Linked DNA regions of Homo sapiens: regions 1 and 3 are each linked to region 2. Evidence: fine-mapped expression QTL. A gene starts in region 2. Each other region holds a variant in brackets. All regions are shown on one strand. Distances are between the middles of the regions. Region 1 overlaps PLPP4 (phospholipid phosphatase 4). Region 2 holds the start of WDR11-DT (WDR11 divergent transcript). Region 3 overlaps WDR11 (WD repeat domain 11).

Evidence for each region. PIP is the estimated chance that this variant, and not a neighbour inherited with it, causes the effect.
Region 1: its variant is fine-mapped to the expression of WDR11-DT in cerebellum (GTEx, PIP 0.91).
Region 3: its variant is fine-mapped to the expression of WDR11-DT in caudate (GTEx, PIP above 0.99). The same link has a PIP of 0.9 or more in hippocampus, nucleus accumbens and prefrontal cortex.

What each region holds. Positions count from the first base shown.
Region 1 is chr10:120,571,962-120,576,961 of GRCh38, forward strand. PLPP4 (phospholipid phosphatase 4) reads left to right here. Exons shown (of 7, transcript NM_001030059.3): 6 at 3,170-3,340. Among named protein-coding and RNA genes, the nearest start is that of LINC01561, 23 kb to the right of the region's middle. RefSeq lists an enhancer at 3,166-3,665. The variant C/T (reference allele first, on the strand shown) is at 3,088.
Region 2 is chr10:120,845,453-120,856,649 of GRCh38, forward strand. It overlaps WDR11-DT (WDR11 divergent transcript), which reads right to left and starts at 5,727. Exons shown (of 3, transcript NR_033850.1): 1 at 5,242-5,727. WDR11 (WD repeat domain 11) reads left to right here and starts at 5,910. Exons shown (of 29, transcript NM_018117.12): 1 at 5,910-6,054; 2 at 7,072-7,183. The coding sequence starts at 5,969. RefSeq lists enhancers at 5,552-6,096, 5,575-5,694, 5,855-6,324, 6,097-6,640, 6,335-6,394.
Region 3 is chr10:120,884,622-120,895,818 of GRCh38, forward strand. It overlaps WDR11 (WD repeat domain 11), which reads left to right. Exons shown (of 29, transcript NM_018117.12): 15 at 1,193-1,317; 16 at 2,068-2,215; 17 at 4,457-4,563; 18 at 5,274-5,388; 19 at 6,095-6,266. Among named protein-coding and RNA genes, the nearest start is that of WDR11, 39 kb to the left of the region's middle. The variant T/TTTTTGTTTTG (reference allele first, on the strand shown) is at 4,617.

The DNA of each region.
Region 1 (5,000 bases), 280 kb before region 2:
CTTAGGAAAGTAAGGGCACACAGTGAAGTTTAAAAAAAATATTCAAAGGCCCAGTAGCGTGTGGGCAGGAAGACTGGCTGCTGCTGGGTGCCCACAGGATCTAGGCCCTTGCACATTGCCTATAAAGATGACTTGGAATTCATCCTCTTTTTCAAAGAGGCAGAGGCTTCAACATTTTGGAGGGGTCACAGTGGTGGTCCTGGCTCCCGCCGTGTGGGAGAGAATACATTTTACCTACCCTTCAAAGAATGAGTTAGAGCCTGGGGTGCCAATGCTGGCCAAATACAAGTTCCTGAGACAGAGAAATCAGGCGGATGCTGAGGATCTCACCTCGAACCATTTGCCCAACAGTGGAGGGTTTCCACAGCCCTTCCCCTTCTCCATGCCCTGGATGTGCCCGGAGGTGCTGTAGGCAGTATTGGTTGCTTGGGCTGATGACTTATATGTCTTAAAGTCTCCAAGTCATTTTTTATGGGGACACATAAAAATTCCTGCTCAACAGCTGCCCTATGTTCATTGATTTGTTTGTTTGTTTGTTTCCCTAAGAGATGCCAGTTTGGCAACACCCAAGGCTGCCTCTCCCCTGATTCAGATCTTGGAGACTTTCATCCAAAACCATACAAAGCCCCAGGGCAGTTTTTTTTGTGTTTCCCTGCATTTAGTGTAATTAGGTGGATAAACTTGCAAAGCCACCTGATTTGAATAAAGTCCATTATTCCTCCTGAAGGAGCTCAGGATGGGATCAATACCAATGGGATCCAACTCTCCAGCCTCCTCTCCCACTGGAATACCTCAAGGAAGAATGTAAATGAATAGAAGGAACAGAGCAAAGGGGATGAGGATAGAATTTAAGAAGTCGTTGTGCTTGCTACGTTGGTGGCCAGATAGGGCCACTTTGGAACATCATGTAAACCACTTAATAACCTCCCACCACAGTATCTAGAGCAGGGCTGGGCCATGCAGTTTCTTCTCACATATTTTTACTTTAAGCAGAATACTTAATATCTATTGGCACGGCTCTGATGTTATTCATCAGACCTAACTCTGAAATCCTAGGACTCTAAATCATCAAGGCTCAGGTTCAAGTTCAACGGGGAGGAGAAAAAACAACAACAAAAAACCAGGAAGGCTGTCCAAGACATGTTTTCTGACTCTAGCCATAGAACTTGCTACTCTCTTCTCAAAGAAAACAAGCATTTTACACACTGTGAGGAGGGGGAGGGTGCTAATCATTACGCAGAAGTGTTTCAATGCACACACCACTCACATTTAGATTTACTTTCTTTTGCTGCATCTTTATACCTACGATAAACCTGGTTTAATATTCCATTAAAATTTTTTTTTAAACCACTGTAACTTTGTTTAATTTGGTTGCTGAAAAAAGTTCTACTTTGGTATAATCTTGTGTTTGTAACCGAGATCGCTTTTAAGAAGGCACATTCTTATCAGAGATAATTTGGAAAAGCTGCAGGTTGTTCACTGTTTGGTACTATAGTAATGATTATCTTGAACTTACAGTTTAGGGTCCTACTTGTTTCACTTAGCATGCATCCTAAGTATTGTCTATATTGTTACATAATCATGTGGTTTTCATGGTTGCATCATAGTCCATTACAAGGAAATGTCACAGCTTGGTTATCTATTCTTCTGTACTGATCATTTTCAGTTTTTCAATATTTATCAATAACTTTGAGCAGAAAATCTTCTAGATTTCCCTTACATTTTATATTATTTTCTTAAGATGGACTTTCCAAGGTCTCTTATAAAGACAATGAATGTATTTTAGGCCAAGGCTTCTCCAAGTGCAGTGTGTGCACAGATCGCTGGTGGATGTTGTGAAATACAGATTCTAACTCAGCAGGTGTGGGTTGGACCTGAGGATCTGCATTTGTCACAAATGCCTGCATGATGCCCAGACCGTGGCTCAGGGCTTTGGGCAGTCTCTTAAAGTTGCTGGTGTATTGGCATTGAGAGTATTTATAATACTCGTTTTGCCAAGTCACTGTGTGGGCTGGTTACCTAGGAGCTCCATCCCCTCAGAAGTACTTTCTAATCAAGAAGAAAGTTTGGATTAGACTGGTGTCCAGAGGGATGGGGAGCTGTAACACCTGCCTTCAATAAAAGCCTCTAAGCTTAGTTGTGGCCACCATTAGAATCATCTGGGGAGTACACACACACACACACACACACACACACACACACACACACTCTCTCTCTCTCTCTCTCTCTCTCTCTCTCTCTCTCTCTCTCTCTCTCTCTCTCAGCTCCCTCCAGACCACTACAAACAGAATGGCTGGCAATGGAACCTGGGTATCAGTATTTTTTAAAGCTTCCCAGGTATTAGAGGTGACTCTGTATAGCCAGGGTTGAGGACCATTGTTGTAAGCGCTTCCCAACTTAAATCTCACTGAGCTCCCAACTATGTTTTATACCTGCTTGGATGTAAAGCTTGGGGCTTATACATGCTACACTCAGACCTCTACACTTTCGACAATGGATTTAGCACAGCCATGAGTTGTCTTTGCAATTCAGAAAAAACAATAACCATTATTTCGGACAGAAAACAAGGTATTTGTCATCGCTGACTTCTCCATCAAACTCACTCTTTTGTAGCATTTGCTGGTCCCATCTTACTGAATGCCACCATTGTACACTCAGTCTCCCAAGCCAAAAACCTGGGGCTGATCCTAGCCCCTTTACTTTCCCATGCCCTTCAGATCTAAGCAGTTCTCACAGTCCTTTGCTCTGTATGTACTTGTTTCTTATAGAATGTATCACATTATATTAAAATTATCTCTTAGCATGGTATGTCCTTCAACTAGACCATGAGCCTCTTGACTCCAGAGATAGTATCTGATGCATCTTTTTATTCCCCACATCTAGTGCAGTGCCTGTCTAGCACAGAGTGGAGACTCCTGAAGTAACTATTGAATGAATGGATGAAATAAAATAGGTTTTGATCACATATAACCCTGGAAGATTATTCTTATGGTTGAAAGTTTCATAGCAGCATGGTGCTAGCAGGAGCACAGATTGCCTAGATAGTGCCTGGTGCCAACATGGCCTTGGCCTTGGGGGTGTGCAAGA[C/T]GGCAGACGGAATGCCCAGCACGCACTGAGTCCCTGCCACTCACCACCTGCTAGAGTAACACCTGCTGTTTCTGTTTGGCAGTTGCCTTTTCGGGCCTTGGCTTCACGACGTTCTACTTGGCGGGCAAGCTGCACTGCTTCACCGAGAGTGGGCGGGGAAAGAGCTGGCGGCTCTGTGCTGCCATCCTGCCCTTGTACTGCGCCATGATGATTGCCCTGTCCCGCATGTGCGACTACAAGCATCACTGGCAAGGTGAGTCCCTGCCCAGGGCCTGACTAGTCCTCACTGTGGTTGCCCCTCTCCTCCAGGGATGGGTGTAGAAATGCACCAATTGTGGGGAGCTAAGTGCCCATTGTCCAAAACCAGAGGAGGCTGAAATGACAGAGCGGATAAAATTTTGAAGCAAATATGCTGGTTCAAGTGAGGTCTGGCCTTCCTGGGGAAAGAATTGGAGCTCTTCTTCCTCCTTCATGCTCCAGGAGACTGCTTGAGTCCTGCCAGAATGTCAGGCCCTTTGGTTTAGTGTCACCCTTGGCCTGAGACCCAAATGTGATTTTCCTGCTGGATCACTTGCCTCAGTCCTCAGAGTTGGTGCCAAGTGGTTTTTGGCTTCCTTTGCTTATCAAATCCAGCCTACAAGGACGTATTTGTCACCATGGATGCTCTTCCGAAAGGTATATCTAGCCAGGGATTCATTCCAGTAATGCTCCAAGCAGCAGCTGCAAGCCTGGGGTGAGGTTTGCCTATATATATACATATATCAGTCCTGGGGTATTTGTTAAAAATCAAAATAACACAAAACAAGGGAGGGGCTTGTTCCTGAAATATAACTAAACCATGCCATGTCCTTCTGCAGACAAACTGCAGCTCACAGTCTGTCTGAAAGACAACCACCACCTGCCAGAGCACACAGAGAGCTGAGACGGAGGTGATGTCCATGGGAGGTGTGGCCTCCAGGAAGCATGGGGTCTAGGGAAGGGTTTCCCAAGGGCAATCCTTGGATCACCTTGATCAAGCTGCCCTGAGCTAGAAATTGGACTCTCTAGGGGTGCATCTGGAGCAGTGGCCTAGAATCTTCCTGGATAATAAGCAAGCCTGTCATTGCTGATGAAGTCTAAGAAACACTGGTAAAGAGCTCCACCATATGTGTCAATTTTAACCAAACAAAGGAAAGAAAGTGTGCCTGAATCCAGCTTCTTTGAATGAATGGGCTTCCATGATAGGTCTGTGACCCAAACCTCCTCTCCCTTTCTTGTTTTCCGACTGTTGCTGGGCATTGTTCACCTCCTTCCTCTCTCTGTCTTTGCAGCCAGCTGCCTTGCAGGACTGCCCTCTTCCTACCTTTTCCGGGGGTTTGTTGCAGTGGTAATGAGGCAATGGATGGGGACAGGGTTGAGGGGAACTCCTAGCTGAGAGCCCCTCCTTCCTCATCTTCTCTGGAGACCTTGTGCTCCTTCTAGCACTACACAGCTTCTCCTGTTCCTTCCTGGTCTCATCCCTACCCCGTATCCTCCTGGAGCTCATGCTCTGGGTGTCCTGTGACCCCAGCAGGAGCTTTGGGCTGGAGGATGAAGGGTATAGGGAAAGAGATGCTGACATGGTTTGGACAGGTGGATGCAGCAAGCATCAAGTGCTACTAAGGTCTGAGGCCCTCCTGATGGGGGAGGTCAGAAGAGGGTCACAGGTCTGAACCTGCCCTTGTTCTGTTTTTATCAATGACTTGGATGAAATTCTGGATGATAAGAAGCCGCATCATGAGATGGAAGGATGGACAGAGTCACTGGGCCAACAAAAACAGAGGCACAGCCCCCCATTGGAACTGGGAATATGTTCCCGCAGAATTGTTTCCCACCTATGTGAGTTAGGGCATTTCCCCATGAAGAATATTACGGGCCAAATGGCCTTTTATGGA
Region 2 (11,197 bases):
GTCCTCCTGCTCTTTGCTCCGTGAGAAAGATCCACCTACAACCTCAGGTCCTCAGACCGACCAGCCCAAGAAACATCTCACCAATTTCAAATCCAGTAAGCAGCATCTTTTTACTCTCTTCTCCAACCTCCCTCACTATCCCTCAACCGCTTTCTCCTTTCAATCTTGGCGCTACACTTCAATCTCTCCCTTCTCTTAATTTCAATTCATTTTCTGATAGAGACAAAAGAGACACGTTTTATCCGTGGACCCAAAACTCCGGCGCCAGTCACAGACTGGGAAGGCAGCCTTCCCTTGGTGTTTAATCATTGCAGGGACGCCTCTCTGATTACATACCCACGTTTCAAGGGTGTCAGACAATGCAGGGACGCCTGCCTTGGTCCTTCACCCTTAGCGGCAAGTCCCGCTTTCCTGGGGCAGGGGCAAGTACCCCTCAACCCCTTCTCCTTCACCCTTAGCGGCAAGTCCCGCTTTCCTAGGGGGCAAGAACCCCCCAATTGCTTATTTCTGCACCCCAACCTCTTATCTCTGCGCCCCAATCCCTTATTTCCGCACCCTGACCTCTTATTTCTGTGCCCCAACCCCTTCTCTGCTTTTCTGGAGGGCAAGAACTCCCCACCCCTTCTCCGTGTCTCTACTCTTTTTTCTGGGCTTGCCTCCTTCACTATGGGTAAGCTTCCACCTTCCATTCCTCCTTCTTGTCCCTTAGCCTGTGTTCTCAAAAACTTAAAACCTCTTCAACTCACACCTGACCTAAAACCTAAATGCTTTATTTTCTTCTACAATGCCGCTTGACCCCAATACAAACTCGACAGTAGTTCCAAATAGCCGGAAAATGGCACTTTCAATTTTTCCATCCTACAAGATCTAAATAATTCTTGTCGTAAAATGGGCAAATGGTCTGAGGTGCCTGACGTCCAGGCATTCTTTTACACATCAGTCCCTTCCTAGTCTCTGTGCCCAGTGCAACTCGTCCCAAATCTTCCTTCTTTCCCTCCAGCCTGTCCCCTCAGTCCCAACCCCAAGCGTCGCTGAGTCTTTCTAATCCTCCTTTTCTACAGACCCATCTGACCTCTCCCCTCCTCGCCAGCCCAAGCTAGGTCCCAATTCTTCCTCAGCCTCCACTCCTCCACCCTGTAATCTTTTTATCGCCTCCCCTCCTCACACCTGGTCCGGCTTACAGTTTCATTCTGTGACTAGCCCTCCCCCACCTGCCCAGCAATTTATTCTTAAAAACGTGGCTGGAGCTAAAGGCATAGTCAAGGTTAATGCTCCTTTTTCTTTATCCCAAATCAGACAGCGTTTAGGCTTTTTCATCAAATATAAAAACCCAGCCCAGTTCATGGCTCGTTCAGCAGCAACCCTGAGACGCTTTACAGCCCTAGACCCTAAAAGGTCAAAAGGCCATCTTATTCTCAATATACATTTTATTACCCAATCTGCTCCCGACATTAAATAAAACTCCAAAAATTAAATTCCGGCCCTCAAACCCCACAACAGGATTTAATTAACCTCGGCTTCAAGGTGTACAATAATAGAAAAAAGTTGCAATTCCTTGCCTCCACTGTGAGACAAACCCCAGCCGCATCTCCAGCACACAGAACTTCCAAACGCCTGAACTGCAGTGGCCAGGCATTCCTCCAGAACCTCCTCCCCCAGGAGCTTGCTACAAGTGCCAGAAATCTGACCACCAGGCCAAGGAATGCCTGCAGCCCAGGATTCCTCCTAAGCCGTGTCCCATCTGTGCGGGACCCCACTGGAAATTGGACTGTTCAACTCACCTGGCAGCCACTCCCAGAGCCCCTGGAACTCTGGCCCAAGGCTCTCTGACTGACTCCTTCTCGGCTTAGCGGCTGAAGACTGATGCTGCCCGATCGCCTCGGAAGCCCCGTAGACCATCACGGACGCCGAGGTTTGGGTAACTCTCACAGTGGAAGGTAAGTCCGTCCCCTTCTTAATCAATATGGAGGCTACCCACTCCACATTACCTTCTATTCAAGGGCCTGTTTCCCTTGCCTCCATAACTGTTGGGGGTATTGACAGCCAGGCTTCTAAACCTCTTAAAACTCCCCAACTCTGGTGCCAACTTAGACAATACTCCTTTAAGCACTCCTTTTTAGTTATCCCCACCTGCCCAGTTCCCTTATTAGGCTGAGACACTTTAACTAAATTATCTGCTTCCCTGACTATTCCTGGACTACAGCTACATCTCATTGCCGCCCTTCTTCCCAATCCAAAGCCTCCTTTGCGTCCTCCTCTTATATCCCCCCACCTTAACCCACAAGTATAAGATACCTCTACTCCCTCCTTGGCGACCGATCATGCACCCCTTTCCATCTCATTAAAACCTAATCACCCTTACCCCGCTCAATGTCAAGATCCCATCGCACAGCACGCTTTAAAAGGATTAAAGCCTGTTATCACTCGCCTGCTACAGCATGGTCTTTCAAAGCCTATAAACTCTCCTTACCATTCCCCCATTTTACCTGTCCTAAAACCAGACAAGACTTACAGGTTAGTTCAGGATCTGCGCCTTATCAACCAAATTGTTTTGCCTATCCACCCCATGGTGCCAAACCCATATACTCTCCTATCCTCAATACCTCCCTCTACTACCCGTTATTCTGTTCTAGATCTCAAACATGCTTTCTTTACTATTCCTTTGCACCCGTCATCCCAGCCTCTCTTTGCTTTCACTTAGACTGACCCTGACACCCATTAGGCTCAGCAAATTACCTGGGCTGTACTGCCACAAGGCTTCACAGACAGCCCCCATTACTTCAGTCAAGCCCAAATTTCATCCTCATCTGTTACCTATCTCGGCATAATTCTCATAAAAACACACGTGCTTTCCCTGCTGATCGTGTCCGATTAATCTCCCAAACCTCAATCCCTTACAAAACAACAACTCCTTTCCTTCCTAGGCATGGTTAGTGCGGTCAGAATTCTTACACAACAGCCAGGACCGCACCCTGTAGCCTTTCTGTCCAAACAACTTGACCTTACTGTTTTAGCCTAGCCCTCATGTCTGCGTGCAGCGGCTGCCGCTGCTTTAATACTTTTAGAGGCCCTAAAAATCACAAACTATGCTCAACTCACTCTCTACATTTCTCATAACTTCCAAAATCTATTTTCTTCCTCATACCTGACACATATACTTTCTGCTCCCCGGCTCCTTCAGCTGTACTCACTCTTTAAGTCCCACAATTACCATTGTTCCTGGCCCGGACTTCAATCTGGCCTCCCACATTATTCCTGATACCGCACCTGACCCCCATGACTGTATCTCTCTGATCTACCTGATATTCACCCCATTTCCCCATATTTCCTTCTTTACTGTTCCTCACCCTGATCACGCTTGATTTATTGATGGCAGTTCCACCAGGCCTAATCGCCACATACCAGCAAAGGCAGGCTATGCTATAGTACAAGCCACTAGCCCGCCTCTCAGAACCTCTCATTTCCTTTCCATCGTGGAAATCTGTCCTCAAGGAAATAACTTCTCAGTGTTCCATCTGCTATTCTACTACTCCTCAAGGATTATTCAGGCCCCCTCCCTTCCCTACACATCAAGCTCGAGGATTTGCCCCCACCCAGGACTGGCAAATTAGCTTTACTCAACATGCCCGAGTCAGGAAACTAAAATACCTCTTAGTCCAAATAGACACTTCCACTGAATAAGTAAAGGCCTTTCCTACAGCGTCTGAGAAGGCCACCACAGTCATTTCTTTCCTTCTGTCAGACATAATTCCTCAGTTTAGCCTTCCACCTCTATACAGTCTGATAACAGACCAGCCTTTATTAGTCAAATCAGCCAAGCAGTTTTTCAGGCTCTTAGTAGGTGTCAGTGAAACCTTTATATCCCTTACAGGCCTCCGTCTTCAAGAAAAGTAGAACGGACTAAAGGTCTTTTAAAAAGACAGCTCACCAAGCTCAGCCACCAACTTAAAAAGGACTGGACAATACTTTTACCACTTTCGCTTCTCAGAATTCAGGCCTGTCCTCAGAATGCTACAAGGTACATCCCATTTAAGCTCCTGTATAGACGCTCCTTTTTATTAGGCCCCAGTCTCATTTGACACCAGACCAACTTAGACTGTGCCCCAAAAAACTTGTCATCCCTATCTTTTGTAGTCATACTCCTATTCACCATTCTCAACTACTCATACATGCCCTGCTCTTGTTTACACTGCCGGTTTACACTGTTTCTCCAAGCCATCACAGCTGATATCTCCTGGTGCTATCCCCAAACTGCCACTCTAAACTCTTGAAGTAAATAAATAATCTTTGCTGGCAGGACTATGCTGAATCTCCTTAGGCACTCTCTAATCAGATGTCCTATGTCCTCCCAATTCTTAGACCTTTTATACCTGTTTTTCTCCTTCTCTTATTCCATTTAGTTTCTCAATTCATCCAAAACCGTATCCAGGCCGTCACCAATCATTCTATACGACAAATGTTTCTTCTTACATCCCCACAATATCACCCCTTACCACAAGACCTCCCTTCAGCTTAATCTCTCCCACTGTAGGTTCCCACGCCACCCCTAATCCCACTTGAAGCAGCCCTGAGAAACATCACCCATTCTCTCTCCATACCACCCCCCAAAAATTTTCGCCGCCTCAACACTTCAACACTATTTTGTTTTGTCTTATTAATATAAGAAGGCAGGAATGTCACGCCTCTGAGCCCAGGCCAGGCCATCGCATCCCGTGACTTGCATGTATACATCCAGATGGCCTAAAGTAACTGAAGATCCACAAAAGAAGTACAAACAGCCTTAACTGATGACATTCAACCACTGTGATTTGTTCCTGCCCCACCCTAACTGATCAATGTACTTTGTAATCTCCCCCACCCTTAAGAAGGTTCTTTGTAATTCTCCCCACCCTTGAGAATGTACTTTGTGAGATCCACCCCTGCCCACCAGAGAACAACCCCCTTTGACTAATTTTCCATTACCTTCCCAAATCCTATAAAACAGCCCCACCCCTATCTCCCTTCGCTGACTCTTTTCGGACTTAGCCCACCTGCACCCATGTGAAATAAACAGCTTTATTGCTCACATAAAGCCTGTTTGGTGGTCTCTTCACACGGACGCGCATGAAACTAACAATGTATTGGGGAGAGAAACACACATCTGCAAATATCATTGCTGAAAAGAAATCATTGCATTAAGTGCTATAGTTAAAGCGTATAAACCCAACACTGAACACAAAGGAGGGAAGGACTGGGTCTGACCTGGAGAGCAGCAGAGGAGAAAGTGCGAAATGAAAGGTACCCAGCAACAGACAAAGGGTCACACTTGGCCCCAGACATAGTGCTTCTTCCTCAAGTGCGAAGGGAGTATTGCAAACACCAGATATGCAGTGTTATCTGTATTTGGAAATTGTTTATATTCAGGCCATTCACTTCATTCAGTCTGGCAATTTCATTCAATTAATCTCATTCATTTCTTAATTAATCTCATTCATTATTCTCTGTAAACTCCACGAGAGCGGAGACTTTGTGTCTTCTTCATCGGTAGATCCCCCATGCCTACTGGCACTAGTAGTTGCCCTAAATTCACTTATCAAAGGCAGCAAGAATAACTGGGACTCTTCTCTCTTGCTTTTCACGATTTCCAGCAGGGCACAAAGGCCTACAGTCCCCACCTGAAAAAAACAGACTTGACTGGAGGCAGCGCCTCTTCTTCCAAATACAGCCCCAGCTGACGCAGATTAGCACAACCGCCTAAGCGGCGGAACTCTGGAGAGTGCGGAACCTAGGATCCTAGGAAACTGAAGGCAACGGAACCTGGGGGCGATGGAATCCGGGAGCGGTGGAACCCGGAGCCTGTAGAACTTGAATCTAGAGGAACCTGACAGCGGCGCCGAGGGGGCCACCCGGACTCTGTTTGGAACGGAAGCACAGTGTCCGCCGCTTCCTGGTTGCGGGTCAGCGCCCAGGTCCTGGGCTGGCCGCCGGGATGTTGCCCTACACAGTGAACTTCAAGGTGTCGGCGCGCACCCTCACGGGGGCCCTCAACGCCCACAACAAGGCGGCGGTGGACTGGTGAGGACGCCGAGCTTCCAGGTCGCCAGGATCGGCCAGGAATGTGTGAGGGGGAAGGGGGAAGGACAAGAGGTTTCACCCCCTGGTTAGTTTGGCCTCGCTAAGGCAGGGAGCCGCCCTCACGCAATGAGCTTGCTTTCAGTTGGTGGATTTTTGTTGTTACAAAAGTGATAATAGCCCCGTGTGGGAAATTCCCCCATGCAAATACATTTCCCCTCTTTCTCGCGTATTTCTCTGCTGTTTTCTCTGCACCTCGCCCTTTTGCCGTTCCATTCCTCTCTCTTTTCCTCTCCTCCAGCTTCCAGGCTTCTCTCTCTCCACCATTAATTCCCTGTGCACTTTCTCTTTCCCATCCTGTCTTTTCTTTTTCGTTGTCTTGTATTCCTGTTGTCTTTCAACAATGTGCCAGACCCTGTGCTAGGCGCCTGTTCTTTCACCTGTCCTTTTCACCTCTTTTCGGGCTCCTCCTGTGTAGAACATTCCTGCCTTCAACAGGTCGTCTTTATTACTCTCTCCTTTCACTATAAATTACTACTGCAGCTCTGAAAACTACTCATTAGACAAATGTAAAGCAAAATTCTGTGGCTGTGGGATGTTGTTAGGAGGACTGAAACGTCTTGTGCAGTGTTTGTCGTTTTATTTAGTTGGAAGGACTAGGATTAGTCGCAGTATCCCCAGGCACATTGTGGATACTAAGGATTAGAAATCGGATAAGCGAAAGACGTATGCCTACAAGAACAGTCAGAGGGCACAAGTTCCTTTTTATGTCCTCGGGTCTCTATTTTCATATCTTTTAGAACTTTTTTTATCCGAATGAAAAGTGAATTTCAACAAGCATTTTAAGCTTAGCCAGATCTTTTATTTAAGTGGGATAATGATAAATACTGGCCTTTGGGTTTAAATGATTTTATTAATGGTGGTACATATGAATTAGACTTATCATTTATTTAGGCTTGGCAAGAAAGAAGTCGTCCTGCTTTGTTCTGTACTTAAACTTTAACATTACTGTTTTGCTAGGGGCTGGCAAGGTTTAATTGCTTATGGATGTCATTCACTTGTGGTAGTGATTGATTCCATTACTGCCCAAACTCTTCAAGTTTTAGAAAAGCATAAAGCTGATGTTGTAAAGGTAAGTAAAATCCCACTTTGACGCTAACATGTTGTCTAGTCTAAAGTTTAATACTGTGTATCACTAAGCTCTCATTAAGTCTTACGTGTAAGTGTTGAATAGCTTTTAAATATAACAACCTATTTGGGGTAGCCTAGAATTTTCATATATATGACTTAATGTCAATACAGGGTGAGTTATTAAATGCTAGTTGTTAGATCATTTTAAGGCAGATGAAAGTTCTACCATTTACAAGACCACTCAGTCATTCCTTAGTTTTGAGCACTTACCATATGCTATGGATATGGAGATGAAAGCCCTCAGATAATTCTCCATCTTATAAGGAAGACTCACAGCGTGATAGTGTGATAAGTGAGACTTGCGTAACACGCTGTGAGAAAACAGAGGAGCTGCATATTGCCTGGTTGTGAGGAGAGTCACAGAAGTCTACAGTTTCAAGACTAGTAGACAGTAGTTAGCCAAGTAAAAAATTGACAAGGAGCATTGCAGGGAAAAGCAAGAATATACACAGAAGTAAGTAGCGTGCCATAAAGATGGCTAAAGATGGGACACTTGTAGGAGTGATGAAATAAGAGGCAGCCAGAGAGATTCAGCTGTCTGTCCTGAAGTTTTGTAAGATTACGAAGGAGTTTGGATTTTTTTTTTTTTTAGACAGAATCTCACTCTGTCGCCCAGGCTGGAGTGCAGTGGCATGATCTCGGCTCACTGTAAGCTCCACATCCTGGGTTCACGCCATTCTCCTGCCTCAGCCTCCTGAGTAGCTGGGACTACAGGCACCCACCACCATGCCCAGCTAATTTTTTGTATTTTTAGTAGAGACCGGGTTTCACCATGTTAGCCAGGATGGTCTCGAGCTCCTGACCTCGTGATCCACCCGCCTTGGCCTCCCAAAGTGCTGGGATTACAGGTGTGAGTCACCGCGCCCAGCAGGAATTTGGATTTTTGAGTAGGAGATTGATGTGACCATATTCGCGTCTTAGAAAAACTCTGGCAGCAGTGGAGGATCTGCTGAAGAAATGCAAGACTGGAGGCAGTAAGATCATTTAGGAGATTTCTGCAGTAATTTTGGTGGGAAATTCTAAGGGCCTAAAATAAAGCTGGGGCATGGAGAAGTCATGTTTAAGAGCAGCAAAGAGGTAAACCTGATAGCCTTTATAGTGATCAGTATAAAGGAGAGTAAGAGAATAGAGTGACTCCAAGGTTTCTTTTGGTGTAATTGAATGACAGTGTTTCCAGTTATCAGAGGTAAGCATCTGTGAAGTCAGTGAATTTTTAAGTTTTCAACATGCAAAATCTGAGATGCCTGTAATATATTGCATTATAGTGATCCGGGCTTTAGGAGATAGGTCAGGATTAGAGATAGAGATTTGGAGTCTTTTTCTTTTTTAAATAATAGCTTTATTGAGATACTCATACCATAAAATGTACTGACTTAAAATGCACAATTCTGTGGCTTTTAGTATATCCACAGTTAATGCAGCCACAATTACAATGAACTTTTTTACCTCAAAAAGAAACCCTATATCCACTAGCAGTCATATTCCATTTCCCCCATTTCCCTCATCCTTTGGCAACCACTGACCTACTTTCTGTGTCTGTAGACTGGCCCATTCTGGGGATTTTATATAAATTGAATCATATAATTTGTGGTCTTTTGTGCATGACTTCTTTCACTTAGGATAATGTTTTCATGGTTCATCTGCGTTGTAGCATATATCAATACTCTGTTACTGATGAATAATATTCCACTGTAAGGATGTATCACATTTATTTTATTGATGGACATTTGGATATTTTGTACTTTTTGCCTGTTACGAATAATGCTGCTTTGCACATTCATGTGCAAGTTTTGTGTGAACCTGTGTTTTCATTTCCCTTGAGTATGTTTCTAGGGGTGGAATTACTGACTCATATGGTAACTCTGTTTAACTTTTTGAGGAACTGCTGGACTGTTTTCCAAATTAACATTCTCATTAGTAGTGTATGAGGAGTCTAATTTGTCCAAATCCTCACCAACGCTTGCTGTTCTCTGTTCTTTTGATTATAACCATCCTAATGGGTATGAATTGATTCTCATTGTGGCTTTGGTTTGCATTTCCCTGATGGCTAAAGGTGTGGAGTATCTTTTCATGTGCTTATTGGCCATTTGTATATCTTCTTTGGAGAAATGTCTATGCAGGTCCTTTGCCCATTTTAAAATTGTATTATTTATCTTTTTATAATTGAGTCGTAAGATTTCTTTGTATACAGTAGTCCTCCCTTATCCAGAAGGGAAATGTTCCAAGACCCCAGTGGAAGCCTGAAACCCTGGATAGTACTGAACCCTATATATATTGTGCTTTTTCTCATACATACTTACTTATGATAAAGTTTATAAACCAAACCCTGTATATACTGTTTTGTCTCATACATACTTACCTATGATCAAGTTTATAAATTAGGCATAATAAGAGATTAACAACAATAACTAATAATAATAAAGGAGAACAATTATAACAATACATCAGCATTACTACTCTTGCACTTTGGGGGCATTATAAAGTAAAATAAGGGTTACTTGAACATAGCACTGAGATATCACAACAGTTGATCTGATAATCAGTATGGCTACTGAGGGCAGGTGGTGTATACAGCATGGATGTTCTGGACAAAGGGATGATTTATGATTAAGGCAGGATGGAACAGGACAGTGGGAGATTTCATCATGCTATTCAGAAAAGCGCATAATTTATGAATTGTTTATTTTTAGACTTTTTTGTGTCATATGTTTGGATTGATACATGATTTGCAAATATTTTCTCTCAATTTGTGGGTTGTCTTTTTACTTTCTTGGTGGTGTCTTTTGAAGAACAAAACTTTTTCATTTTGATGTAGTCCAATTTATTATTTTGTATTGTTGTTGCTTGTACTTTTTGTGCCATATCCAAGAAACCATTGCTTTCTCCAATATCAAGAAGATATATACCTTTGTTTTTTTCTTAGAATTTTAGAGCTTTAGCTTTTAATCCATTTTGAGTTAATTTTTATATATGATGTGAAATAGGGAAAAATACTATTAATTTTTGTTTATTGATCATATCCTGTAATCTAGCTAACTTCACTTAGTAGATCTATTTAATAGTAATTTTGGGTAAATTTTTTTTAAGTAGACAGTCATGTCACTGCAAGTGACTGCAGTTTAATGTTTTCATTGATAATCTGTGTGTCTTCTATTTTTCTTGCCATGTTGCATTGGCTAGGACCTCTACTACAATGAATGGGAGAGTAGTGAGAGGATACTCTTGTCCTGTTCCTGAGCTTAGGGGGAAAGTATTCAGTCTTTCATCAAGTCTGATGTAAGGTATAGGGTGTTTTGGGAAAAATATATTTACCTTCTCTTTCCCTCTCTGTTTCCTTTCCCCTACACTGCCCCTTGGCATTTCTGGAGCTTTTATTTCTTTATGTAGGTCCAAGTTTCAGTCTGGTATTATATTCCCATCGACTGAAGAATTTACTGTAAGTTCTTAAAGTGCCTGTCTAATATTGGTTGATTCTCTTAGCTTTTATTTCTCTGAGAAAGTATTTCACCTTTGTTTTCGAAAGATAATTTTCAAAGGATATAGAATTCTGGGTTTATAATTTTTTTTTCTAGTAGTACTTTACAAATATCATTCCATTGGCCAGGCATGGTGGCTCACACCTGTAATCCCAACACTCTGGGAGGCCGAGGTGGATGGATCACCTGGGGTCAGGAGTTTGAGACTAGCCTGGCCAACAAGGCAAAACCTCATCTCTACTAAAAATACAAAAATTAGCCAGGCGTGGTGGTACACACCTGTAATCCCAGCTACTTGGGAGGCTGAGGCAGGAGAACAGCTTAAACCTGGGAGGTGGAGGTTGCAGTGAGCTGAGATAGTGCCACTGCACTCCAGCCTCGGCAACAGAATAAGACTCTGTCTCCAAAAAAAAAAAAAAAAAAAAATCCCTCCACTATCTTCAAGCTTACATAGTTTCTGATGAAAAATTTTTGTTTTT
Region 3 (11,197 bases), 39 kb after region 2:
ACAATGCATTTAATTAATCAAGATTAATGCTTTTTGTTTGATGAAGATGTCAAAGTTAAATACAGAAGACATTTTGGGAAAACAAATTTTCCAGTGTCTAAATTTAACTAGAAACTCCTGCAAGTCAACAGTGAAAAAAAGCGGGAACCCTAGTGAGAAAATGAACAAAGTCTGTGAAGAGCTAATGAGAGGCAGAGAAACCTAAAAGGCCAACAAGCCATATAAAGGAATGTTCAAACTCATCAGTTTTCAGAGATGTTCAAACCATGATATGGATCTACCGTTTAGACTAACAAAAACTGGACAGCCATATAGTGTTAAGTACGGGTGGAACATAGGGTATGGGAATCCTTGTGCATTGCTGGTAGGAATGTAGACCAATGCAGCCATTCTGTAAAGCACGCTGGCAGCACTTGGGCAAACACAGACATCTTCTGTGTCCGCTGAGCTCTTGGTCGTAAATGAACTTTTGCAAGGATATTGACTGGTGTGTTTTGTCATGATGTGAGTTTGGAGACCATCTGTGTGTTTTTACTGAGAGAGGAGACAGATTAACAATTGGCTGATGCACCCATGGAGTATTACGTAGCATGCAGAAACAGGAGGAAGAGGACTTAAATACAGTGGAAAGAGTAAGAAACAGGATGAAGTATATATATATATATACACACACACACACACACACACACATATAAACACAATACTATTTAGGTAAATTAGATAATAACTACATGTTAAGAACTTATACATATGCGAGGATATTGGACTAAAAGGCTTTACAATAGGTGGAATATAAAAGAATATATAAATAAAACAAGTGATTTTGGAGGAATCTATGGATGATAAAGGACCCTGGTTCGAGAACTGTGATTGTCTTATCGTGTGCACATAAGAGATGGGGGAGGAGACGAGGAATAGGCAATACTATCATTGAATTCATTATTTTCATTTTGTAAGTATTTTATAAAAACATCAAAAGGTCAGACCTTTTGGAAGTTTGCCATAAAAGCTCCAATTAAAATGCATTCATTTAGCCTTTCTCTAAGTAGGTAAAATCTAAAGAACAAATGTGGATTCATGTGTAGTAATAATAAATGATACTGGGCAGTGGTGTGTGTGCCCAGCTCTTCTGGACGATTCTTTGACAGAAGGAAACCTAGCACTTCTAGGTTTGTCTGCATTTGCTTTACAGGAGTGGTCACCATCTCACAACTTGAAGAGCCTGAGAAAGAAGCAACTTGCAACTCGAGAGGCCATGGCCCGCCAGACCGTAGTCTCAGACACAGAGCTGAGTATTGTTGAATCATCTGTGATCAGGTACAGTACAGTGTTTCTTGACACTGTCATTTGTGCCATTAGCATCATGTCTGGGAAGTTGACAAGTATCATCGGAAGGTGTCTATGGTAGCAAGTTGGACTCTGCTTTTGAACATACTTAGTTTCATCTTTCAGTACATACCCAGATTACTAAAAAGATAATTTTATCATTTTTAGTATTGTACTATACTGTTTGTTATAACTAATAACATATGCAGTAATATTCACCCATCAGCATCTAGTAGTAAATGTGCTCATTCCGAGTGCCCTTCTACTCCATACACTTCAGCTTCTGAAATTCAAATGAACATAGCATAGACATACAGATAGATCATATTATCATTTATACACACCAAAGAAAATGTGTTGGGAATCCTAAATTTGTGTATCATCCCCATCCATACCAATCTTACAGATAAAAGGCTTCAGAGATAATGTTGGGTCACTGTACAGCCTCCCTTCTGTTGAGCACAGTTCTATAGCCAAAATCTCTATGAATTTTATTTTTCTTGTGTTAAGTTTAGATCACCATTTCTCTCTGTGCAGGGTAAACTTCCTCTGATGTTGTGGCTGTTAAGGAGTGATTCATGTTTACCCATAATTAGCTGGGCAAATATTAGTTTCAGACTTTTAAAAAAATAGTTTTGGACCTCCTCTTAATGCGTCTGTACTTTGGGCAAGTTAATTAATTATGAGTATCACTCTAGGGGAAAAAAAAACATCTTTATCATATGTTTCACTATCCCAAAGCTTGCTGCAGGAGGCAGAAAGTAAATCTGAACTTAGTCAGAACATCTCTGCCCGGGAACATTTTGTATTTACCGATATTGATGGCCAAGTGTATCATCTCACTGTTGAAGGAAACTCAGTAAAAGACAGTGCTCGGATTCCACCAGATGTGAGTACAACCTTGATTAAATCTTCATCAAGAAGATTTTGTTTTGTTGGTTCCATATCCAGTGAAGGCATAGTTAAGTTGGAAACTTCAGAAAAGCCTAATGTAAATAAACTTTATTTAAGGAGATATTATCGATTAAACTTGTTCCATACTGCTAGAGAATAACGCTGTAACTATTTTGATTAAATGTTTACTGTGTGCTACTCATTTTTATCCCTGTAATAATCCATGAGGAGTTATCTCCATTTTACCCATAACAAAACTGTGGGAGAATAAGTAACTTTCCCAAAGTTATCCAGCTTACTCATATGGCAGAGCAGTGTTTTAAACTCAGGCCTGTCTGACTTCAGTATCTGTCTTCTTTCCATTTCAGGCATTACCCTGAAGGATTTGACTTACAATCTAGTATTATTTTTGGATAATAGTAATCAGGTTGTAAGTGTAATAGTATTATTAACATTTACTAACTTACATATATTCTTATGGCCTTGTGGAATCTGTAACTAAAGTTTTGCCATTAATCATTTGTGTCAGCATGCATCTCATAGATAGTTTTTAATAGATGGATCATGAAAATGTTTATGTTAATTAATGCAGGCTATTATAATGGTTAAATGAAGGCATGAGGGGATTTTTTAAAATAGGTATATTTATTTTAAATTGCTATCTAAAAATGGAATGCTCTAGTAGAATGCCAACCCCCATAATTTTATAGGTGGCTTTGGGGTCTCATAAAGTTACAATCTAGATGTTGGCTGTGGCTACAGTCTTTTGAAGTGTAATGGGACAGAAGGATCTATTTCCAAGTTGGCTGCCTCACAGGCTATTGCACATTAATGCTGGCTGTTGACGAGGGACCTTAGTTCTTCATGTCGATCTTTCCATAAGGCTGCTTGAGTGTCCTCACGACATGACAACTGGCCTCCCCTAGAGTAAGTGATCTGATAAAGCAAGAAGGAAGTTGCAGAGTCTATTATGACCTGGTTTCAGAAGTCTCTTCAAAGGCAACTTCTTAATTAAACATTCTATTTTATGGCTAGGAAAGTAGATATCTTAAAATGTTGCTTCATATTATATACAGAATTTCATTTCTTTAATATTTTTTTTTATTAATGGACTTTATTATAATATTGATTTTTAAATCCAGTTTTTGTTTTGTTTCTTGACTATTACCAGAGTTTTTACGGTATTCAGTGTGTGTGCTAGTCCACTAATGGTCAATTATTCAAACCACTAGAGTTTTCTTACTTTTTACCATGGATACCATTTGAATTTTTATGTTGTACAATAAATGCAAAAATAAAATTTCTTTTAATAAATAGAGAAGTAATTGAGCAGTAATATTATTTAATAGCTAACATGTATTGACTATTTACTGCATGGCAGGCATTGCTTTAAGGCCTTTGCCTTTATAAATTTATTAATACTAGCAACAACTCAAGTTTCATGAACTTACCCTACTTTATGGACAATAAATCCAAGACAGAAAGGTTAAGTAAACATGCCTCAAATCACATACCAGTTTCAAGCTGGGATTCAAGCCCAGGCAGTGTGACTGCAGAGCCCAGGCTGCTGAGCCCTCCATGATACCACCTCTGAGCATCTATTAGAACTGCAAGTTCCTTTCTTCCTCCAAGTTAGATTGACTACAGCAGCATTTCATTCTTATGTTGTGCTTCTATATGTAACTTCTGAGCAAAGCTTTCTGTGAATTTAAACTGCATATGCCTTTAGTAAACAGCATCTCTTCACCTTCATGATTCCACAATGTTCCAAAACGTGTCAGTGAAGCTCTGGATCCTTTTTTCAATAGAAAAATCACGGCACAATTAGTTATAAAAGAGCTTTAAGTTTCCCTTGGAATGGATTTAGTTATCCTTTTGCAGTGAGAGATAAGTTTGAGTTGGCTCTCTGGAAAACCTTCCCTTTACTTCTCTGTTTTTCTTACTTTAATTTCCCCCTTTTTTTTTTGAGGTATTTGTTCCTCAAAAGACATCCCCTCTCTTTAAATCTAGTTCCAGTAACTACTTAATGTCTATGAAGTTGAAATCTCCTATTTCTTCATAGTTGAAATTGATAGGCAATGTAGCTCTTTGTTAGTGTCTAAAGTCTGTTTTAGGATTTGATGACTAAAAGCATACTAAAGCACAGCCCTTTAAATTAAGTTTTATTAAAATATTTATTATAATGTCTTATACAGCATAGTGAAATTTATATTTGTTTGTTGCTGTTGTTTTCTAGGGAAGTATGGGTAGTATTACCTGCATCGCTTGGAAAGGTGATACATTAGTGCTTGGAGATATGGATGGAAATTTAAATTTCTGGGACTTGAAAGGCAGAGTATCCAGGTATAAGCCAAGAATGAAATCTTGTTATTTCATTAAAAAAAAGAAATGAAATC[T/TTTTTGTTTTG]TTTTGTTTTGTTTTGTTGAGATGGTGTCTTGCTCTGTCGCCCAGGCTGGAGTGCAGTGGTGCAATCTCGGCTCACTGCAAGCTCTGACTCCCGGGTTCATGCCATTCTCCTGCCTCAGCCACCCGAGTAGCTGGGACTACAGGCACCCACCACCACGCCCGGCTAATTTTTTTGTATTTTTTTAGTAGAGACGGGATTTCACCATGTTAGCCAGGATGGTCTCGATCTCCTGACCTCGTGATCCGCCCACCTCGGCCTCCCAAAGTGCTGGGATTACAGGCAGGAGCCAGCACACCCGGCCAAAAAATGACATCTTGATATGGTTCCATTAGAGGCTTGTGACTTGGCAAGAAGGATCAGTAAACTCGTGGAGGTGTAGCTTGGACCCTTGGGTCCCTTCACCTAAACTTGGGAGGATGGGCCTTGAGCCAAGCATTCTTAGGAGATAGTTATCTGCAAGTGGCCCCTGCAGAAGTCTTAGCTGACCTTAAAGGGCAGGCCCTTTCTGTCAGATGTGGCCCCCAGTCCCAGCAAGTAAAGGGTTCTCCCATCATCAGACCTGTTAGAAATGGAAATAGTGAGAGATGTTAGACATAGCTTCTGGTGACCAGATCTCACTCTACATTGTATTGATGTTTTTGTTTCTTTGTCTTCAGAGGAATACCCACACACCGAAGTTGGGTGAGGAAGATTCGTTTTGCTCCTGGTAAAGGAAATCAAAAATTAATAGCAATGTACAATGATGGAGCTGAAGTGTGGGATACTAAAGAGGTAGGCCCTCTCCATGAGGATAAAACGTAAATAAATTGTTAGCCATAGGAACTGTGCTTTGTTAAAAAACTTCTTTCTGATTTAGAAATGAAAAGTACTTAATGAGTTCGTCAAGTTTCCCATAACAAATTATTTTCTTTACTTTACAGTATTTGTGTTCTAAAGGTAACAACTCAAGATTTATTTATTTATTTATTTATTTATTTTTATTTTTTATTTTGATATGGAGTTTCACTCTTGTCGCCCAGGCTGGAGTGCAATGGCGCGATCTCGACTTATTGCAGCCTCCACCTCCTGGGTTCAAGTGACTCTCCTGCCTCAGCCTCCCTAGTAGCTGGGATTATAGGCATGTGCCACCACGCCCGGCTAATGTTTTGTATTTTTAGTAGAGACAGGGTTTCGCCATGTTGGGCAGGCTGGTCTCAAACTCCTGACCTGAGGTGATCTGCCCGCCTCAGCCTCCTAAAGTCCTGGGATTATAGGCGTCAGCCACCGCGCCCAGCCGATTTATTTATTTTTTAATATTATCACTGTCTCTGAGACCTTTAAAATGCTGCCTATTTGTGGAAGATAGATTGCCAGAGGCTGTTCAGTTCTAAACTTGAACTGGGCCTTTGCCACAGACTGTCTTCCTTGACCATTTAATCTAGAATAATAAAGATCTTCCTTTTCTGTCTGGAAGTGATGCCCAAATTCACTCTTGAAGGTTCAGATGGTGAGCAGTTTAAGAAGTGGCAGAAATGTGACCTTTCGTATATTGGATGTGGACTGGTGTACGTCAGATAAAGTGATCTTGGCCTCAGATGATGGGTGCATCAGAGTCCTAGAGATGTCTATGAAGTCTGCGTGCTTTAGAATGGATGAACAAGAGTTAACCGGTATGGAATCCTAATGATAGGGGGCTTTGAAACCTGTCTTTACTTTGCCACAAGCTCTTGTATTTTGGGGAGAGAGCTGCTGCTTCTGTTTCATTTCAGTCTTATTTTCTTAGAATCTGAGTTTAAGAAAATATATTAACTTGAAGCTTGAGTGTTTTTACTGCTGAGATGCTGCAATCTTTGTAACTATAGATGTCAATCATTCTCAATTCAGGTTTTTTAAGTGCCCCTTTTGACTCTTTTCTTTGGTTTGTTAACAAGATAAAAGATGTTTATGTTTATAAAAATGGCTTACTCAGAATTTAGGCAAACTCATCAGAGGACATAAATCTAGTGATAAGGCTGCTGGCTTTTTAATAATGGCCTTATGTCTTTTGCAACCATATATCATTGAAAAGTCACTTTAGAAAGTGTTCTGAGTATTATGAATTTTGATGCCAATCTGTGACTAGTAAAATGACCAGTCAAGCAAATTAGCAGATTGCAGTATCTTGCTCTGTTTTGTATGGTTGTTTTGACATTGCTTTTTACCAGAATAAAAAGCATTTTAGTAGAATATACTCCATATATGACTTCTAAAAAAAAAAAGAATGGGACAATTGTGAATGCATCCATTTATCAGTTTAAAAGGCAGCTTTTGGCTGATGCAATACAGTGTTCATCCTTGGAAGATACTTGATCCTACTTGGAGTGGAGGAGGGAACTTCTTGCCTGAGTATTCTCCCAGCAAAACTTTGGTGCACACTCTAGGCTGATATGTAGAAAATTTCATGAGACTTTTCTGAACCTTTGTAGAGTCAATATTTGGCACTTCAGACACAGTAAGGTTTTAAAAACCTGGTTTTTCACTTTGTGTTCATGCTTGAGGCACTACTGAGTTGCTGCTAATGTTAGCAGGGCTGCCTTTAACTTAGTTAGGTATGCTTTGGTTTTTGTCACTGCCCACCCCTGCCCACTGCATTTGGGCACCACCACTTCTTACTATGTAACTGACTGCCATCAGGTGAAGCCAGAATTCAAGACCTACATTCCCATGTCTGTCCTTGTGTCGTTTGCCAGCTCTGGGGAAGCACCAGGATGGCCTCCTAGGAAAGGGCAAGCATTGGTATTCATTTTAAACCTAAAGGTATTGAGGACATTGAAGGAACTTCAAGGGTGGTTTTTGAAAAAATTGGTTACTAATTCTAGATAAAGAAGTGTGGAACTGCTATCTAAATGTTTGAAGAGCTTTTCCTTCACTTTTAATATAAAATTTGAATCTAAAAAGCTCCAAAGTCAAGGTGTAGCTTGTTCTTAAATTAAACTGACTACAGAAATGGAGTCCATTGTATTAACCCATGTTCAATACCATACTTGAACATCTGGCCTGTGGCCAGATTTTAGATCACATGTTTCTTTTAAAATTTTTCTGATTTTTTTTTATATTCTTTTCAATCTCTAATGTTACAGCCTCAGCCAGAAAGAGAAAACTAAATAGCAATTGGGAAAGGTCATGCAATTGTGTATTCATTCCACAAATTGAACTTCAAATTCAGAACAACCCTTAATAAATGTTAAAGAATGAAAACTATGGTAGTGTAAATGTGGAGTGAGGAAAAAGACATCTGTGTGTTCACCTCCAGATTCATGGCCGATTTGGTCTTGAGGAAAAAAAGTTTGAGGTAGTATATTTCTATTCTGAGGAATTAGAAGTATATTTGGGGCTTACTGACATGGGATAAAAATAAAATAGGTCCTAACATTGGTGTTTCCTATGTTTTCTTCAATTCTCCTTGAAAACAAGTAGAGAACGTAAAATATTGATTCACATCTGTACATTTTCTTAGAGCAGCTTAGATAGGCCACTTCTTCCTCCAATAAAGAGGGGGCAGTCAGACAAATTAGAAGATTAGAATTCCTGTTTTTGAGTTGGAGAACCTTTCTTATCGGCTGCCTAATATGTCAGGGACACAAAGAGCCATCAAAATAAATCTTAATAGTCTTTTTAGCAGCATCTAAAAGGAATGCAAGAATATGAGACTGTTTAATAGCATTCTGGTATCATGCAGTTTCCACACCCTTTAAATAGTATTGACTTGATATCAGGGACTGTTCAACCTAATTTCCTCCCCAGTGTTTTTTTTTTTTAATTTTATTATTATTATACTTTAAGTTTTAGGGTACATGTGCACAACGTGCAGGTTTGTTACATATGTATACATGTGCCATGTTGGTGTGCTGCACCCATTAACTCATCATTTAGCATTAGGTATATCTCCTAATGCTATCCCTCCCCCCTCCCTCCACCCCACAACAGTCCCAGGTGTGTGATGTTCCCCTTCCTGTGTCCATGTGTTCTCATTGTTCAATTCCCATCTGTGAGTGAGAACATGCGGTGTTTGGTTTTTTGTCCTTTTGATAGTTTGCTGAGAATGATGATTTCCAGCTTCATCCATGTCCCTACAAATGACATGAACTCATCATTCTTTATGGCTGCATAGTATTCCATGGTGTATATGTGCCACATTTTCTTAATCCAGTCTATGATTGTTGGACATTTAGGTTGGTTCCAAGTCTTTGCTATTGTGAATAGTGCCGTAATAAACATACATGTGCATGTGTCTTTATAGTAGCATGATTTATAATCCTTTGGGTATATACCCAGTAATGGGATGGCTGGGTCAAATGGTATTTCTAGTTCTAGATCCCTGAGGAATCGCCACACTGACTTCCACAATGGTTGAACTAGTTTACAGTCCCACCAACAGTGTAAAAGTGTTCCTATTTCTCCACATCCTCTCCAGCACCTGTTGTTTCCTGACTTTTTAATGATTGCCATTCTAACTGGTGTGAGATGGTATCTCACTGTGGTTTTGAGTTGCATTTCTCTGATGGCCAGTGATGATGAGCATTTTTTCATGTGTTTTTTGGCTGCATAAATGTCTTCTTTTGAGAAGTGTCTGTTCATATCCTTCGCCCACTTTTTGATGGGGTTGTTTGTTTTTTTCTTGTAAATTTGTTTGAGTTCATTGTAGATTCTGGATATTAGCCCTTCGTCAGATGAGTAGGTTGCAAAATTTTTCTCCCATTCTGTAGGTTGCCTGTTCACTCTGATGGTAGTTTCTTTTGCTGTGCAGAAGCTCTTTAGTTTAATTAGATCCCATTTGTCAATTTTGGCTTTTGTTGCCATTGCTTTTGGTGTTTTAGACATGAAGTCCTTGCCCATGCCTATGTCCTGAATGGTATTGCCTAGGTTTTCTTCTAGGGTTTTTATGGTTTTAGGTCTAACATGTAAGTCTTTAATCCATCTTGAATGAATTTTTGTATAAGGTGTAAGGAAGGGATCCAGTTTCAGCTTTCTACATATGGCTAGCCAGTTTTCCCCTCCCCAGTGTTAAAGGCCACTGCTAAGCACATTTTTCCTAAGTAAGCATATATAGAAAGAAGCTTTCTGAAATCAGATTTCTGCACAAACCTTTCCTCTTCATCTGCCACAGCTTTCCACAGTCATTTTCGGTAATCTTGGGGCATTCAGAAATGTCTCACAATGACTTGCCGATGTGGGGAGGTCTGGGGATGCTAAACAACCTGGAACGATCTGGCGCAATGAAGAATTGTCCTGCCCCAAACGCCAGTAGTGTTCCTTAGCTCTCTTTTTCACCGTTCATTGAATCACACTGAACAAAATCACAAAATATGGTCCTTTCCTTCCCAGACTTCCAGCTCACCTTAATGTTGCCATTTCCAAGTGGTGGAGGAATAACTTTTTTCTACTGATTTTCTTCTTGGCTCTTTGCTTACTGATTTTCTGCATTCCTGTCATGTAGGTAGCTAAAAACCTGGGTGTTATGATTCATACCTCACATAACTTTAGCCCAGATGGAGCAGAATCCGTGACAAACAGCAATGATGCTAACTGCTTTTGCATTCTAATTGTGTAATTTTCAGAGGTGAATGAGCTCTTGCATGTGAGTTTCTCCAGATGTGAGATGATCTCCTATTACTTTTTCATGGCTGATCTTTACCTTTCAGAAGAAAGATTTCAATTCATTTGAGGGAGGGAAGTAGTTAAGGGTCACTTTCAGTTTGTTCATGCTCATTGGGATGCTGTCAACAATATTTTGCTTTTGGAGAAATAACATATTTGTTTTAAAAAATAAGGTATTTCCCTCCTTTTATTCAGACTTGGTAAATGTTGTCTTGCTTGCATGATGTAAACACTCGATGCTGCCTTCTACGTGGATTCTCTTGTATCTTTTCGTTTGTTCATTGATTAAGAAATTACCACACAGCATGAGAACTTTCCCTGAACCATTCCAAGATTATTATGTATAGTTAATTTTTTTCCCTGACATTTACCATTTCCAAACATACTGTGATATAATACCAACAACTATCTACATGAATCTACCTAAAACATATACATATGCTATCTAAAATATGAATGGGGCTGACTTGAGAATTATATAGATTGTCGTCTATGAAGGATGAATAGAAAGAAAGTTAAGTAAGCTAGCCACCTGCATCCCTTTCAGTGTTAAGTGTTCAGTGCTTCTGTAGGTAGTTAGATAAGCCTCATTTTTCCAAGATGCAATCCTTCCTTTATAGCCCAGATGTAAAAGAAAAGATGACTAAGTGGAAATTAAAAAAAAAAATTCAAAGCAAAAGAAAATCTTTAATAAGAATAAACGAAAGTGTTCAATAAGCAAAGCCAAATACAAATGATTACCTGGAGGAAAGTAATTCACAAGTCACAGACTGTCTACAGAGGGGCAAAACAGATAAACAAATGATGCTTCAACATATGAAATGATACTCAACTTTATTTATAATAAGAAAAATATTTGACCTCCTACTGGTAAGGATAAAAGAAGAAAATAATTTTAAAAAGTAAATTTTTAAAAAGAGAAAAATACAAATTAAAATTGTTTCTTACCTATCAGATTCAAAAG